4 linked regions of the Homo sapiens genome follow. The protein of the gene in region 3 purifies or fractionates together with the protein of the main gene of each other region. This does not show direct contact. Each region holds a gene or a part of one and is shown on either strand. Other genes may lie near its edges.

Evidence for each region.
Region 1: the proteins of PCDHAC2 (region 3) and ZDHHC18 purify together in Homo sapiens (affinity purification with mass spectrometry; 2 studies listed by BioGRID and IntAct, with this or other methods). This does not show direct contact.
Region 2: the proteins of PCDHAC2 (region 3) and CGRRF1 purify together in Homo sapiens (affinity purification with mass spectrometry; 2 studies listed by BioGRID and IntAct, with this or other methods). This does not show direct contact.
Region 4: the proteins of PCDHAC2 (region 3) and PIGQ purify together in Homo sapiens (affinity purification with mass spectrometry; 2 studies listed by BioGRID and IntAct, with this or other methods). This does not show direct contact.

What each region holds. Positions count from the first base shown.
Region 1 is NC_000001.11:26,843,688-26,847,187, reverse strand, and holds part of ZDHHC18 (palmitoyltransferase ZDHHC18), read right to left. Parts: intron 1-3,500. UniProt on the Homo sapiens protein: Palmitoyltransferase that catalyzes the addition of palmitate onto various protein substrates, such as CGAS, HRAS and LCK. Acts as a negative regulator of the cGAS-STING pathway be mediating palmitoylation and inactivation of CGAS.
Region 2 is NC_000014.9:54,519,906-54,523,405, reverse strand, and holds part of CGRRF1 (cell growth regulator with RING finger domain protein 1), read right to left. Parts: intron 953-3,500; coding exon 813-952; intron 1-812. UniProt on the Homo sapiens protein: Able to inhibit growth in several cell lines.
Region 3 is NC_000005.10:140,972,976-140,976,475, forward strand, and holds part of PCDHAC2 (protocadherin alpha-C2 isoform 1 precursor), read left to right. Parts: intron 1-3,500. UniProt on the Homo sapiens protein: Potential calcium-dependent cell-adhesion protein. May be involved in the establishment and maintenance of specific neuronal connections in the brain.
Region 4 is NC_000016.10:576,468-579,967, reverse strand, and holds part of PIGQ (phosphatidylinositol N-acetylglucosaminyltransferase subunit Q), read right to left. Parts: intron 1,590-3,500; coding exon 1,463-1,589; intron 1,184-1,462; coding exon 1,030-1,183; intron 900-1,029; coding exon 788-899; intron 1-787. UniProt on the Homo sapiens protein: Part of the glycosylphosphatidylinositol-N-acetylglucosaminyltransferase (GPI-GnT) complex that catalyzes the transfer of N-acetylglucosamine from UDP-N-acetylglucosamine to phosphatidylinositol and participates in the first step of GPI biosynthesis.

The DNA of each region.
Region 1 (3,500 bases), on a different chromosome or scaffold from region 3:
TGTGGTGGCTCACATCTGTAACCCCAGCACTTTGGGGGGCCGAGGCGGGCGGATCATGAGGTCAGGAGATCGAGACCATCCTGACCAACACGGTGAAACCCCGTCTCTACTAAAAATACAAAAAATTAACCGGTTGTGGTGGCGTGTGCCTGTAGTCCCAGCTACTCGGGAGGCTGAGGCAGGAGAATCGCTTGAACCCGGGAGGCGGAGCTTGCAGTGAGCCGAGATCATGCCACTGCACTCCAGCCTGGGCGACGGTGGGAGACTCTGTCTCGAAAAAAAAAAAAATTAGGAACAATGAATTTTCTTAGGTATGATAATGGAATTGTGATTATGTAGGAGATTATCCTTAGATTTTTAAGACATATGTTGAAATATTTATAGGTAAAGTATCTATGATGTCTATAATTTACTATGAAATAGTTTGAGAAGAACAAACATATATATGCAAATAAGATGCACTATCAACTACTATTCAATCTAGATGGTGAATGTACAGGAATTAGTTGTACTATAATCCTTCCTGCTTTTTCTGTGTGTTTGAAATTTTCATAATAAGAAATTTAAGGCTGGGCATGGTGGCTCACGCCTGTAATCCCAGCACTTTGGGAGGCCGAGGCAGGCGGATCATGAGGTCAGGAGACCATCCTGATTAACACAGTGAAACCCCGTCTCTACTAAAAATACAAAAAAATCAGCCGGGCATGGTGGCGGGCGCCTGTAGTCCCAGCTACTCGGGAGGCTGAGGCAGGAGAATGGCGTCAACCCGGGAGGCAGAGCTTGCAGTGAGCCGAGATTGGGCCACTGCACTCCAGCCTGGGAGACAGAGCGAGACTCTGCCTCAAAAAAAAAAAAAAAAAAAAAAAAAAAAAAAAAATATATATATATATATATATACACACACACACACACACATATATCTCTATAGAGATATATATCTATATATCTCTCTCTCTATATACACATATATATGTATATACGTGTATATATGTATGTATATAGATATATGTGTATATATAGACATATATACATGTATATATATACACACATATATATACACACACATATATATATACACACACACAAAAGAAATTTAAGAGAAAAAAAGGCAGAGATATAGCATATTCATGGATTGGAAGACTGAATATTATGAAAGGATTTATTCTCCCTAATCCACAGATTCAACATAATCCTAGTCAAAAATCCCAGTAGGTTGTTTTTGTGAAAATTGACAAACTCATTCCAAAACTCATATGGAGGTGGCTGGGCATGGTTGCTCATGCCTGTGGTCCCAGCTTCTCAGGAGGCTGAGGCAGGAGGATTGCCTGAGCTCAGGAGTTTGGGGCTGCAGTGAGCCATGATTGTGCCACTGTACTCCAGCCTTTCCAACAGAACAAGACCCTGTCTCAAACAAACAAAAGACACAAAGGGGCTAATCATAAAAGAGCAATTTGATAAACTGCATTATATCAAAATTAAATTTTTTTTTCATTTAAAGGTAATCATTAAGAGAATGAAGAGTTTTTTGGGGCTGGATGATTAAAAAAAAGAATGAGGCCGGGCGCGGTGGCTCAAGCCTGTAATCCCAGCAATTTGGGAGGCTAAGGCAGGCAGATCACCTGAGGTTGGGAGTTCGATACCAGCCTGGCCAACATGGTGAAATCCCATCTTTACTAAAAATACAAAAATTAGCTGGGTGTGGTGGTGGGCGCCTGTAATCCCAGCTACTCAAGAGGCTGAGGCATGAAAATCACTTGAACCAGGGAGGTGGGGGTTACAGTGAGCTGAAATCATGCCACTGCACTCCAGCCTGGGTGACAGAGAGAGACTGTCTCAAAAAAAAAAAAAAAAAAAAAAAAAAAAAAAAGAATGAAGAAGTAACCTTTAGAGCAGGAATGGATAATTACAAGATGTTTACATCTTGTAAACAAAGACAAAGGACTTGTATGAAGAATATGTAAAGGGCTGGGCGCCTTGGCTTAAGCCTGTAATTCCAGCACTTTGGGAGGCCGAGGCAGGTGGATGACCTCAGGTCAAGAGTTCGAGACCAGCCTGGCCAAACTGGTGAAACCTCGTCTATACTAAAAATACAAAAATTAGCCGGGCATGGTGGCGCATGCCTGTAAGTAATCCCAGCTACTTGGGAGGGTGAGGCAGGAGAATCACTTGAACTCAGGAGGCGGAGATTGCAGTGAGCCGAGATTGCGCCACTGCATTCTAGCCTGGGTGACAGAGCAAGACTCCATCTCAAAAAAAAAAAACCAAAAAAAAAAACCATGTAAAGAAATCCTGTAAGTCAGTAAGAAAGTCAGACAACTGAATACAAATACGGACAAAAGACTTAAGTAGGCATCTCATAAAAGAGGCTGTCCAAACAGCCAATAAACACGTGAAAAAGTGCTTATATTCATTAGTCAGCGAGGAAATGCAAATTAAGACCACAATATGCTACTATGACACATGCACTAGAATGGCTAAAATGAAAAAAAATAAAACATACCAAGTGTTGGTAAAAAAGTAGAGCAACTAGAAATCTCATATGACCGCTTTGGACAACTGTTTGGCAACAGCTACCCAAGCTGAACATATGCACGCCCAGAAAACCTGCTCCCAGGCATCTACCCAACAGCAATGTGCATGAGATAATGTGCTCTGAAAGACATGCACAAGGATGTTCACAGCAATAATTCTCATAATAGACAAACTCCAGAACTACCCAAACACCCCAGTAGTAGAATGGATGTTTTTAAAAAGTAGTATATTCACACAGTGGAATTCTATATAGCAATGAGAATCGAACCATCGTCAACTACACACAATAATATTAATGAATCTCATAAACATTGTCTGGCCGGGTGCAGTGGCTTACACCTATAATCCCAGAACTTTGGGAGGCCAAGGCGGGCAGATCACTTGAGGTCAGGAGTTCAAGACCAGCCCGGCCAACATGGTGAAACCCCATCTCTACAAAAATACAAAAATTAGCTGGGCATGGTGGTGTGCACCTGTAATCCCAGCTACTCGGGAGGCTGAGGCAGGAGAATTGCTTGAACCCAGGAGATGGAGGTTGCAGTGAGCTGAAATCACGCCATTGCACTCCAGTCTGGGTGACAGAGCGAGACTCCATCACAAAAAAACAAAACAAAACAAATTGTGTAAAGTGAGGAAGCCAGACATACAGTACAAAATGTTCAAAAATAGGCAAAAGTAATCCATGGTGTTAGAAATTAGGATTGTGTAACCCTTGGAGAGTGACAGTGATTGGAAGGGGGCATGAGGGGGCTCCTGGGATGCCAGTCATATACTGTTTCTTGATCTCAGTGCTGATTACATGTGTACATTCAGTTTGTGAACATTCATCAGACAGAACACTTAAAATTTCTATACCTTTTTTTTTTGAGACGGAATATTGCTCTGTTGCCCAGGCTGGAGTGCAGTGGCATGATGTCGGCTCACTGCAACCTCCGCCTCCCAGGTTCAAGCAATTCTCCTGCCTCAGC
Region 2 (3,500 bases), on a different chromosome or scaffold from region 3:
CTGCAGACAACTTATTTTTCCAAGCAAGTACAAAAGCAAACAACTGCCATCTATTACCTACCATCTACAAAAGAACATGTTATATCAAAATAATTTATACCAAAATACCATAGTTTCAGATTAAATGACAATCATTCTGGCCGCGCGCAGTGGCTCACACCTGTAATCCCAGCACTTTGGGAGGCTGAGGTGGGTGGATCATCTGAGGTCAGGAGTTTGAGACCAGCCTGGTCAACATGGTGAAACACTGTCTCTACTAAAAAAACAAAAATTAGCCAGGTGTGGTGGTGCATGCCTGTAATCTCAGTGACTTGGGAGGCTGAGGCAGGAGAATCGCTTGAACCCGGGAGGTGGAGGCTGTAGTGAGCCGAGATTGTGCCATTGCACTCCAGCCTGGATGACAGAGTAAGAATCTGTCTCAAAAAAAATAAAAAGGCAATTGTTCCTCAAAAGGTTAGCAACCTTACGTTAACTGTATTTAGACATAACACATCATTTCTCACTTTACTACAGACCAATAAAAATGGCATAGTGTCCTAAGAGACTTCACTATTAACACCTGTAATACTTCATTCTACTCCTTTGTATACACATCTACCTCTGTTTACTAGGTGATAAATTCTTCAGGAGTAAAGTTTGTAACTTCTTAATCTTTGTATCTGTCATATACAGTACAGCACCTGGAACAACATAGTTGCCCAACAAATGTTTGTTAAAAGTCTAATGAAGGGAAAGAAATAGAGAAAGAAAATAAAAGGGCTAAAAAAAGAGGGCAAACAATGAGAGAAAATCTTTGGAAAACAGCCACCAACTTGTAATTGAAGCTGAAGATGGATTAGTGATCTCTAAGCCAAAAGGATTCTTGACTTGTCTCATTTGCTTTTTGAAAACTCTTGTGCTGAACTGGGTCTCTTCTGAATTTCTCAGAATTACTGGAACATCCCAACCAAACCTAAAAAAAGGTAAAAAATAAAATATTATTTTAACAAATGTTGAAACTTTATGTTATGTGTAAAATCTGTTGTGCTTCATTAGCGATTCCTTTTAGCATTAAGTGTCAGAAAGAGGTTAAATTTCTCAATTTACGTTATTTTAGAGATCCCACAGAACTGCAAAACAGTTGGCCCTCTGTATGAACCAAGTGCACATCAAAAATATTTGGGGACGAGGGGGAAGAATAAAAAATAACAATAAAAAATACTACAAATTCAAAACCAATACAGTATAACAACTGTTTACACAGCATTTACATTAGGTGTAAGTAATCTAGAGATAATTTGAAGTGTACAGAAGGACGTGTGTAGGTTATATGCAAATACTATGTAATGTTATATAAGGGACTTAAGCATCCTAGAATATGGGGGGTGGGTATCCTAGAATCAATCCCCCTCAGATATCAAGGAAGGACTAGGTATTGTTCAGCTGGCTGAATCAACACATTCTTGAAAACAAAGAGTTCTATTGTTAATACTGTTGATAACACCAAAGGAGTATGGAGATTATAGATAAATTATACTTAATTTAACAGCAAACACATGATGAACTTATTGAATTTTTTTAAATGTGAAAAAGAAATATATATTCAAGAGGCAGACTATTGGCCGGGTGTGGTGGCTCATGCCTGTAATCCCAGCACTTTGGGAGGCCAAGGTGGGAGGATCACTTGAGGTCAGGAGTTCGAGACCAGCCTGGCCAAAACATAGTGAAACCCTGTCATTAATAAAAATACAAAAATTAGCTGGGCATGGTGGCGTGGACCTGTAGACCCAGCTACTTGGGAAGCTGAGGCAGGAGACTGGCTTGAACCCGGAAGGCAGAGGTTGCAGTGAGCCGAGATCGTGCCACTGGACTCCAGCCTGGGCAACAGAGCAAGATTTCGTCTCTCAAAAGAAAAAAGAGGCAGACTAATATGATTTATGGGACAACGGAACTTTTTTTTTTTTTGAGATGGAGTTTCATTCTTGTTGCCCAGGCTGGAGTGCAATGGCGTGATCTTGGCTCACTATAACCTCTGCCTCCCGGGTTAAAGCAATTCTCCTGCCTCAGCCTCCCAAGTAGCTGAGATTACAGGCATGTGCCACCATGCCCAGGTAATTTTTGTATTTTTAGTAGAGACGGGGTTTCACCATATTGACCAGGCTGGTCTCGAACTCCTGACCTTAGGTGATCCGCCCACCTCAGCCTCCCAAAGTGCTGGGATTACAGGCGTGAGCCACCATACCCAGCCAGGACAATGGAACTTTTAAAACACCAACTATAGCTCTTCATTTATATATCTTCTACTTTTAAATTTCATGTAAAAATGTAAACTCTGACAATGCCCATGGAACAGAATTAAAAGGAAAATGAAAGGGGCTAAATTCAATTCCCAATAAAATTAAAAAACAGCTACTTTACTCAATTTACATAAAATAATCTAAAATTAATACACACCAGTTAAACTAGGAAATTTTAGTTAAAGACGGCACAGTTAGGAGCCTATTTGATGCACTCCCTTCTCTCCAAATACATATCAGTGATAGATAAAAAAGAAAAAGAAAAATTAAAAAGACCCCACAGATACCTGAGTCCCATATGCTTTAAGAAAAAAGAAAGACTCCGCTGAAATGAGTAAACAAACTGTGGTATATTTAAAGAAAAGAATAGAAGTATTCAGCAGTGAAAAGGAACAACTTATTACTACAATCAAATGGATAAATTTCAGAAACATCGTGCTATGCAAAAGAAGCCTTACACAAAAGAATAAATGCTGTATCCTTCTCTAATATAAAATTCTAGAGCAGGCACAACAAATTTATGGTAGAAATAAAAATGAGAACAATGGTTGCTTCCGGAAGTACAGGAGTAGGACTGACTGGGAAAGAGCATAAGAAAATTGACGGTAACGTTCAGTATCTTGACAGAGGCTTAAGCTGTATAGATGATGTGTTTGATAACACTTGGTAAATGGTACACTTAAGATTTGTACATCTTGGCCGGGTGCGGTGGCTCACACCTGTAATCCCAGCACTTTGGGAGGCCGAGGCGGATGGATCATGAGGCCAGGAGATCGAGACCGTCCTGATTAACACAGTGAAATCCCGTCTCTACTAAAAATACACACACACACACATACACACACACACACAAATTAGCCAGGCGTGGTGGTGGGCGCCTGCAGTCCCAGCTACTCGGGAGGCTGAAGCAGGAGAATGGCGTGAACCTGGGAGTCTGAGCTTGCAGTGAGCCAAGATCGCGCCATTGCACTCCAGCCTGAGCGACAGAGCAAGACTCCATCTCAAAAAAAATAAATAAATAAAAAATAAGATTTGTGTATCTTATATGTAAATGTTACTTCAAAAAACTATAAACGAAAACAAACACTGAACTCTAATCAGTAATATGTAATGTTTTAGAACTTACAGGTGAAGAGTACAACTCACTTTGAAGGGCATCGTGAAATAAGATAGACCAATGTATGGATAAAAGAGTGGATTAATGTGGACAGATATGTAATAGAG
Region 3 (3,500 bases):
TTAAGGTAGATTCTGTGCATTTGTGGTCGTGGTGTTGTGATTGTTAATGAGTCACTTTGAGTACTCTAGTAGATTTGTCCAACAGTGTCTCAGTGGGCCCAGCTGGCACAACATGTAGAAATTATGAAAGAGTAGCAGAGATGAATTAAGTTTGCATTCACTTTCACTTATTTTAAAGCAATTTGTAGTCACCAAACCTTCAGTTATTTCTGCCACTATGTGTGCATATTCACCCTAATTCCAGGTATAGTGACCTGAAAGAGTTAATTCTTCTTTCAGTGGCACCTACTTTTATTTCCCCCAGCACTGATTTTTCTATCTGATGACTCTATCCTGGAACAGAGTTTACACTCGTTGTAAAGTGACATAGTAGTGAATTTATAAAAATTGCACAATGGTCAGAATAGACAAAGAAATCATATCTATGAGCTTCCACTCCAGTTTTTCATCCTCTGATGGTCACTTTATAATGACTGGGGCTGTTTTAGTTTGCAAATTTCATATTGGTCACAGGACTCTTCTTCTGAGAAAAAGTTTATTTTCTTTGGTCTGATGATACAATAATTTATTTCAATTACCTCTTTCCTCAATTTTTCTACAGACTGCTGAGCCAGATGGAATTATGGCTGAGCTCTTCTCTGTTTCTGTATCTTGTACACATTCTGACTGAAGAAGAAATCTATTTATTGTAGCTTGAATGTCATTGGCCTACTGTTTCCTTCTGACCCAGGAGTGAGCCATCACATGGGCATCTGGTCTAACTCAGAACACTCTGCAGGGACACAGCCTGGCATATTATAGGTTGCCTATTGGCATGCTGTCTACTTGACAGAATAGCAAAGTCAGTTCTGGGTACTTGCTTGTTGCCTACCAATTTTTGCTCTCAATGAGAGGTCAGAATAATGTCAATTTGCAAATGTTTGAGGAAACATTCCTGTCACCAAACCCAGAGGTTTAGCTGAATATGATGGCATTTTACAGGTGTCTTTAAATGTGGCTTTTACAGAACTTCACCTGGATCAATGTTTTGTGCATGTGATAATACAACTATAAATTTAGCTTATTAATATGATAATATTTGGAGCAGTATAATCTATAACCATGACTTCAAAAATCAAAGGTTAAAAGTATTCTTTTGCAGTGTTTTAAATCTGCTAACCTGAAAACTATACAAGGGTTTTTCTTTCAAGAATTTTAACTTGACAAATGCAAAGGAATATCCAACATTGCAAAGGTAAAGAGAAATCTTAGTTCCTTGGCATATAAGCACCATCAGTTCCTTTCTGGCCTTCCAGGGTCAGAACTCTGGGCTCCAAGGAGGTACAACTGTGAGTGAGAGAGTAGCTGCTGTGCTAGCAGGCTATGCATCCAGAACTAAACAGACCTAGCACTTTCTGTTGTACTGGAACCCATTAGGTATGTTCTAAAGTTATGTTTATTTTACTTTCCTGGTTTGTAAATTAGCATTTTAAATGACTACATTCAGAGGAAAGTATTCCACCCAGAATTCTCAAATGTATTACCTTTGTGTTTTATTTTATTTTAGTTTTTTTGAGACGGAGTTTTGCTCTTGTTGCCCAGGCTGGAGTGCAATGGCATGATCTTGGCTCACTGCAACCTCTGCCTCCAGGGTTCAAGCGATTCTCCTGCCTCAACCTCCCGAGTAGCTGAGATTACAGGCATGCGCCACCATGCCTGGCTAATTTTGTATTTTTGGGTTTCACCATGTTGTTCAAGCTGCTCTCGAACTCCTGTCTCCACCTTGGCCTCCCAAAGTGCTGGGATTACAGGTATGAGCCACTGCGCCCAGCCCTCATTTTGATATACTAGAAGACCAATATGCAACATAATGATTATTTTAAATGTTATATTCCCTTTTGCCTTAATGCGGAACAGTCTATGTATCCCTTTTCTGATGATTTGTAACAAATTACCACAAGTAAGTTGTTTAAAACACCACCTATTTGTTATCTCACAGTCCTGTACCATGTGGCTGAGTTGTCCGCTCAGGTATTCTCAAGGCTGAAATGAACACAGCTGGGCTGTGTTGTCCTTTGCAGGCTCTTAGGAAGAATCTACTATCGAGCTCATTCAGATTGTTGGCAGAATCCAGTTGTTTGGGGACTGAGATCTCTGTTTTCCTACTTACTATTGGCCTGGGGTCACTCTCAGTTCCTAGAGAACTGAGGACTCAGGACTCTTGTCCCATGGTCTGCTCCATCTTCATGGCTGGCACTGGAGAATCTTCCCTCACATGGAATCCCTCTTATGCTTCAGATCTCTCTGATTTCTGTCTCTGACCTCTAGACCCAGATTTAAAGAGCTCATGTGATTATGTCAGTCCCATCCAGATGATCTCCCTTTCTTAAAGCCAACTGTGCTACATAGCATAATGTAATCATGGGAATAAGATCCATCACAATCACAGTCTTGGAGACTATTCAGGGTGTGCACACCAGGATATAGGGATCTTGGGGCCATCTTGGAATTCTGCCTATCAGTTTATATCAATGTTCATAAAATAGCACTATGCAAAATCTGCAGTGGATATATTCTTAATACAGTCCTATTAGGAAGGAAAAGGAGATATTATATGCAGTCTCATGTCCCAGAGGGCAATTTGTTGATGTCTTCCACATGGATTTCCATGGTACGAAGATAGCATATTATTTCATTGAGTAGTTGTGTGAGTTTATTAATAAAATAGGGTATTTTAAACTTATTTTACTTTAAATCTTAGAAGAGGTGATTCATCCTTCTGTAGCTCAAATATTCTATGTCATAAATCACAGATAATACCATTACAAGATAAATTAAATCTTTTTTATAATTTTAATAGGAACTGAAGTGTATTCTTATTCTTCAGTAATACTACATCACCCATATGGACTACCTAATTGATTTTTTCCACATATGGAGTTTTGTGACCATTATTCTACCAAAAGACTAACCTTTGAAGCAATAGGACATATTAGAGTTCTTCACCAATAGAAAGTAAGCATAGTCCTGGGAGGTACCATCTAAGTATTAAAGAACTAAATAATCACAGTTATTTCAACTGTGATTGAAATTGTGATAGTAATATATGTCTTACTGTGTCAGATATATCAGTAGTCAACTTTTCAACTTGAATTTTTCCAAGTTTAATCAAGTTCTGGATGAAACTCATGTACATTTTACTACTTTTAGTTTTGTATTGTTTTAAATCAATATCCTGGAAACTCAGAAGTAAAAAAGAGAAAGAAGAAAAATATATGTCATTTCATGTAAATTTATTTAAAACACAGACTTTTGGCAAGGCACAGTGGCTCAAGCCTGTAATCCCAGCACTTTGGGAGGCCGAGGAGGGTGGATTGCCTGAGGTCAGGTGTTCAAGACCAGCCTGGCCAACATGGTGAAACCCCATCTCTACTAAAAATTCAAAAATTAGCCAGGTACGGTGGCAGATGCCTGTAATCCCAGCTACTAGGGAGGCTGGGGAAGAAGAATTGCTTGAATCC
Region 4 (3,500 bases), on a different chromosome or scaffold from region 3:
GACCACCCAAGACGGTGCGTGGCCACACAGTCACCAAGAACATGCTCTGCATGGCAGCATCCAGCGGCTGCGGCAAGTGTGAGCAGCAGACGGGCCCGGGCAACTCTAGTCTCCGAGCCCGGGCACCTCTAGTCTCCGGGCCCGGGGCACCTCAAGTCTCCGGGCCCGGGGCACCTCTAGTCTCCGGGCCCGGGGCACCTCTAGTCTCCGGGCCCGGGGCACCTCAAGTCTCCGGGCCCGGGGCACCTCTAGTCTCCGGGCCCGGGGCACCTCAAGTCTCCGGGCCCGGGGCACCTCTAGTCTCCGGGCCCGGGGCACCTCTAGTCTCCGGGCCCGGGGCACCTCTAGTCTCCGGGCCCGGGGCACCTCTAGTCTCCGGGCCCGGGGCACCTCAAGTCTCCGGGCCCGGGGCACCTCTAGTCTCCGGGCCCGGGGCACCTCTAGTCTCCGGGCCCGGGGCACCTCTAGTCTCCGGGCCCGGGGCACCTCTAGTCTCCGGGCCCGGGGCATCTCTAGTCTCTGGGCCCGGGGCACCTCTAGGGCCTGTGCCTGCACCACCTTCGGGGCTGTGTGTCTGTCTCTTCTCTGTGGCCCAGGGAAGCTCTGCGCTGCTTCAGAGCCCCACGTGCAGCCCACACCGCAGACTTATCTATTCCCAGGGCCTGTGCGCGGCCTCAGCTGCAGGACGGGAGCAGGCTGCCCCCTTGTGGTGCCCAAGCACCGCGCTGGCCCAGCGGGCACAGGCCGGAGGCAGTCAGCCCCTCCAGCCACGAACCCTGCCCCATACCTGGTCCAGGTCATAGGAACAGGAGTCCACGCGCTGGCGCAGAACGTTCCACTTCTTCCCCCGGAACAGACGCCACAGTGAGGACAGGCCATGGATCTTCAGGCAGTACAGCCTACAGGACGCAGTGCTGTCGGGCCCGGCCCCGCCCCGCCCCGCCCCGCCCCCGCCCCACTCGAACGCCCGCCCAGCCGGAGCCTCTGCACCTCCCAGGGGGCGGTGGGGAGGGGGAAGCCCACGCCCACCTGGCTCCATAGACGTAAAAGCAGTAGATGTGGAAGGTGAGGAGGGCGATAATGTCCGAGAGGAGGGACAGGGCCACCGTCAGGCCCAGGCAGGCCGAGAGGCCCACGTGCCAAAGGATGTGCTCCACGAAGGGGGACATGAGGTGGATGTAGCCTGGCAGGGTGGGGTAGGCCCTCAGGAGGCGCTCAGACCCCAGCCCTCGGCCCAGCACAACCCTCACACACACAGGACATGAGGTGCGTGTAGCCTGGCAGGGTGGGGTCAGCCCTCGGGAGGTGCCCAGGCCCCAGCCCTCAGCTGAGCACAGCAGGCCTCACACACACAGGACGCTGGGGAGCAGAGTTGGGGGCACAGGGGGCGGGGTCTGGCTGGGTCCCTACCCTCTTCAGCAAGCTCTGGGGTCCCTGGGGCCCCCGCCTGCCCTGCACTCACTGATCCACAGGTGGATGTGGTAGAGGAAGAAGCGGCCCAGCACCTGGTCCAGTGCACGGTTCATCTTGAGCCCGGCGGGAGCACCCATCAGCCACTGCAGCAGATGCTGGAGCTCCTCGGCCACGTGCTGCAGGGACACAGGGGCCACGCTGGGGCGGGGGCAGCCAGGCTCAGCACCTGCATCTCCCCAGGCTCTTTCGTGATGGGCTCCCACCTTGGCCAGCCTTCCCTCCTCCAGGGTCTACCGCGTCCTAGCGTGGACAGCACACGGGCTCCCCTTCACAGATGGCTCCGGGATTGGGGTCTGAGGAGGCTGGTCTGGAGGCCTCTCTCTGCAGGCCTGGGTGACATGGCCGGGCCCACAGGGCATCCGCGTGGCCCCCTGCCTGCACCCACCTCTACCATCTTCCTCCCCTCTCACTACCTCGGCCACAGGACCCACTGGAGCCCTCGGCCCCAAACACGTGGACGCACTGAGGCCTGGCAGACCCTGATTCGGCTCCAGCCCTGCAGGGAAGCCCACAGCTGACACAGTCCCCTCCAGAGGCCCCACCCCATCGCAGAGGCTGGGGGCTGCCCGGGATGACCACAGGTGAGCGAGACAGTGCCAAGCCCATCAGGGCCACAGCGACCAGGCAGGAGGACAGGTCCCCAGAGGGAGGATGGCGTCAAGTTGAGGGCACAGGCACCCCCAAGAGCAAACAGGGAAGCAGGGTCTTGGCCGCCCAGGAAGAAACTCAGCATCCAGAGGCTGTGCCCCAGCGGGCAGACCCCAAGGGAGCCTCAGCCTCCCCACTAAGGAGACAGTGAGTGACACCTTGGCCCCCACTTGCCCATTGCGCAGGCCCCTTCCAAGCCTGGGCCAAGGCCTCAGCCACAGCAGGACTGGCAAGAAGGAGAAAAGAACACTTTTTTTTTTTTTTTTTTCTGAGACGGAGTCTTGTTTTGTCGCCCAGGCTGGAGTGCAGTGGTGAGATCTCGGCTCACTGCAAGCTCTGCCTCCCGGGTTCACGCCATTCTCTTGCCTCAGCCTCCCAATTAGCTGGGACTACAGGTGCCCACCACCATACCTGGCTAATTTTTTGTATTTTTAGTAGAGACGGGATTTCACTGTGTTAGCCAGGATGGTCTCGATCTCCTGACCTCATGATCCGCCCGCCTTGGCCTCCCAAAGTGCTGGGATTACAGGCATGAGCCACCACCCCCGGCTGAGAAAAGAACATTCTTTATAAATAGAGCTTATTTAATATTTAAAGGATAAGAGCTTGGCAGCAGGAAGAGACTTTCATTTTTAAATTAAATATTTATATTTCTGAGCACTTTTGCAAAAGGGAGGTCTAGGACAAAGTAGGCCGGTGGCAGGTGCGGACGACCACAGGCAAAGCTGCCGAGCCCCTTCCCCAGCCCCGCCCCTCCTTCCTTCTGGGCTGGAGCTCCCTGCACCCCCACAGCCACACAGACGTGCCTGATGCTGCCCCCAGAGGCCTGGCCTGGCCACAAGCAGGCCCAGTGCACACCTGCAGCCCACACAAGACCCACCCAGTCAGGCCTCAAGGAGGCCTCCACAGAGGCCCGAGGGTGGGCCAAAGAGTCAGGTACCACCCCCAGCAGGAAGACAAGCTCCTAATGGAAGAGACGGGGCTTTGGTGCTGAGGGAGGAAGACAGAGAAGCTGAAGGCCCAGAGGCAGCATGGAAATGCACTAGATCTGCAGAGGAGGGGGCTGCACCCGGCTGGAAACGGGGCACAGACCATGCAGGGAAGGTGGGAGATGGGAGACAAGCTGTGCCTCTGGCTCTCAGCACAGGAGTTACAGAATCAGCACAGGGGCAGGGCAGGAAGTCCCAGCTGGGCTGCACATGGGCCTCCCTGGACAGGAAAGGTTTCATGACCCTGGCTCTGCAGAGGGCCCCAGAGAGCCAGGAGGGCAACGCTGATCTCAGGGACCACAAGGGAGATACCAGGACGCTGGGCCCACAGGGAGAGGCGGGCTCCCCAGAGCCTCAGCCCGGCTGGCTCCTGCACACAGCCCCTTCAGA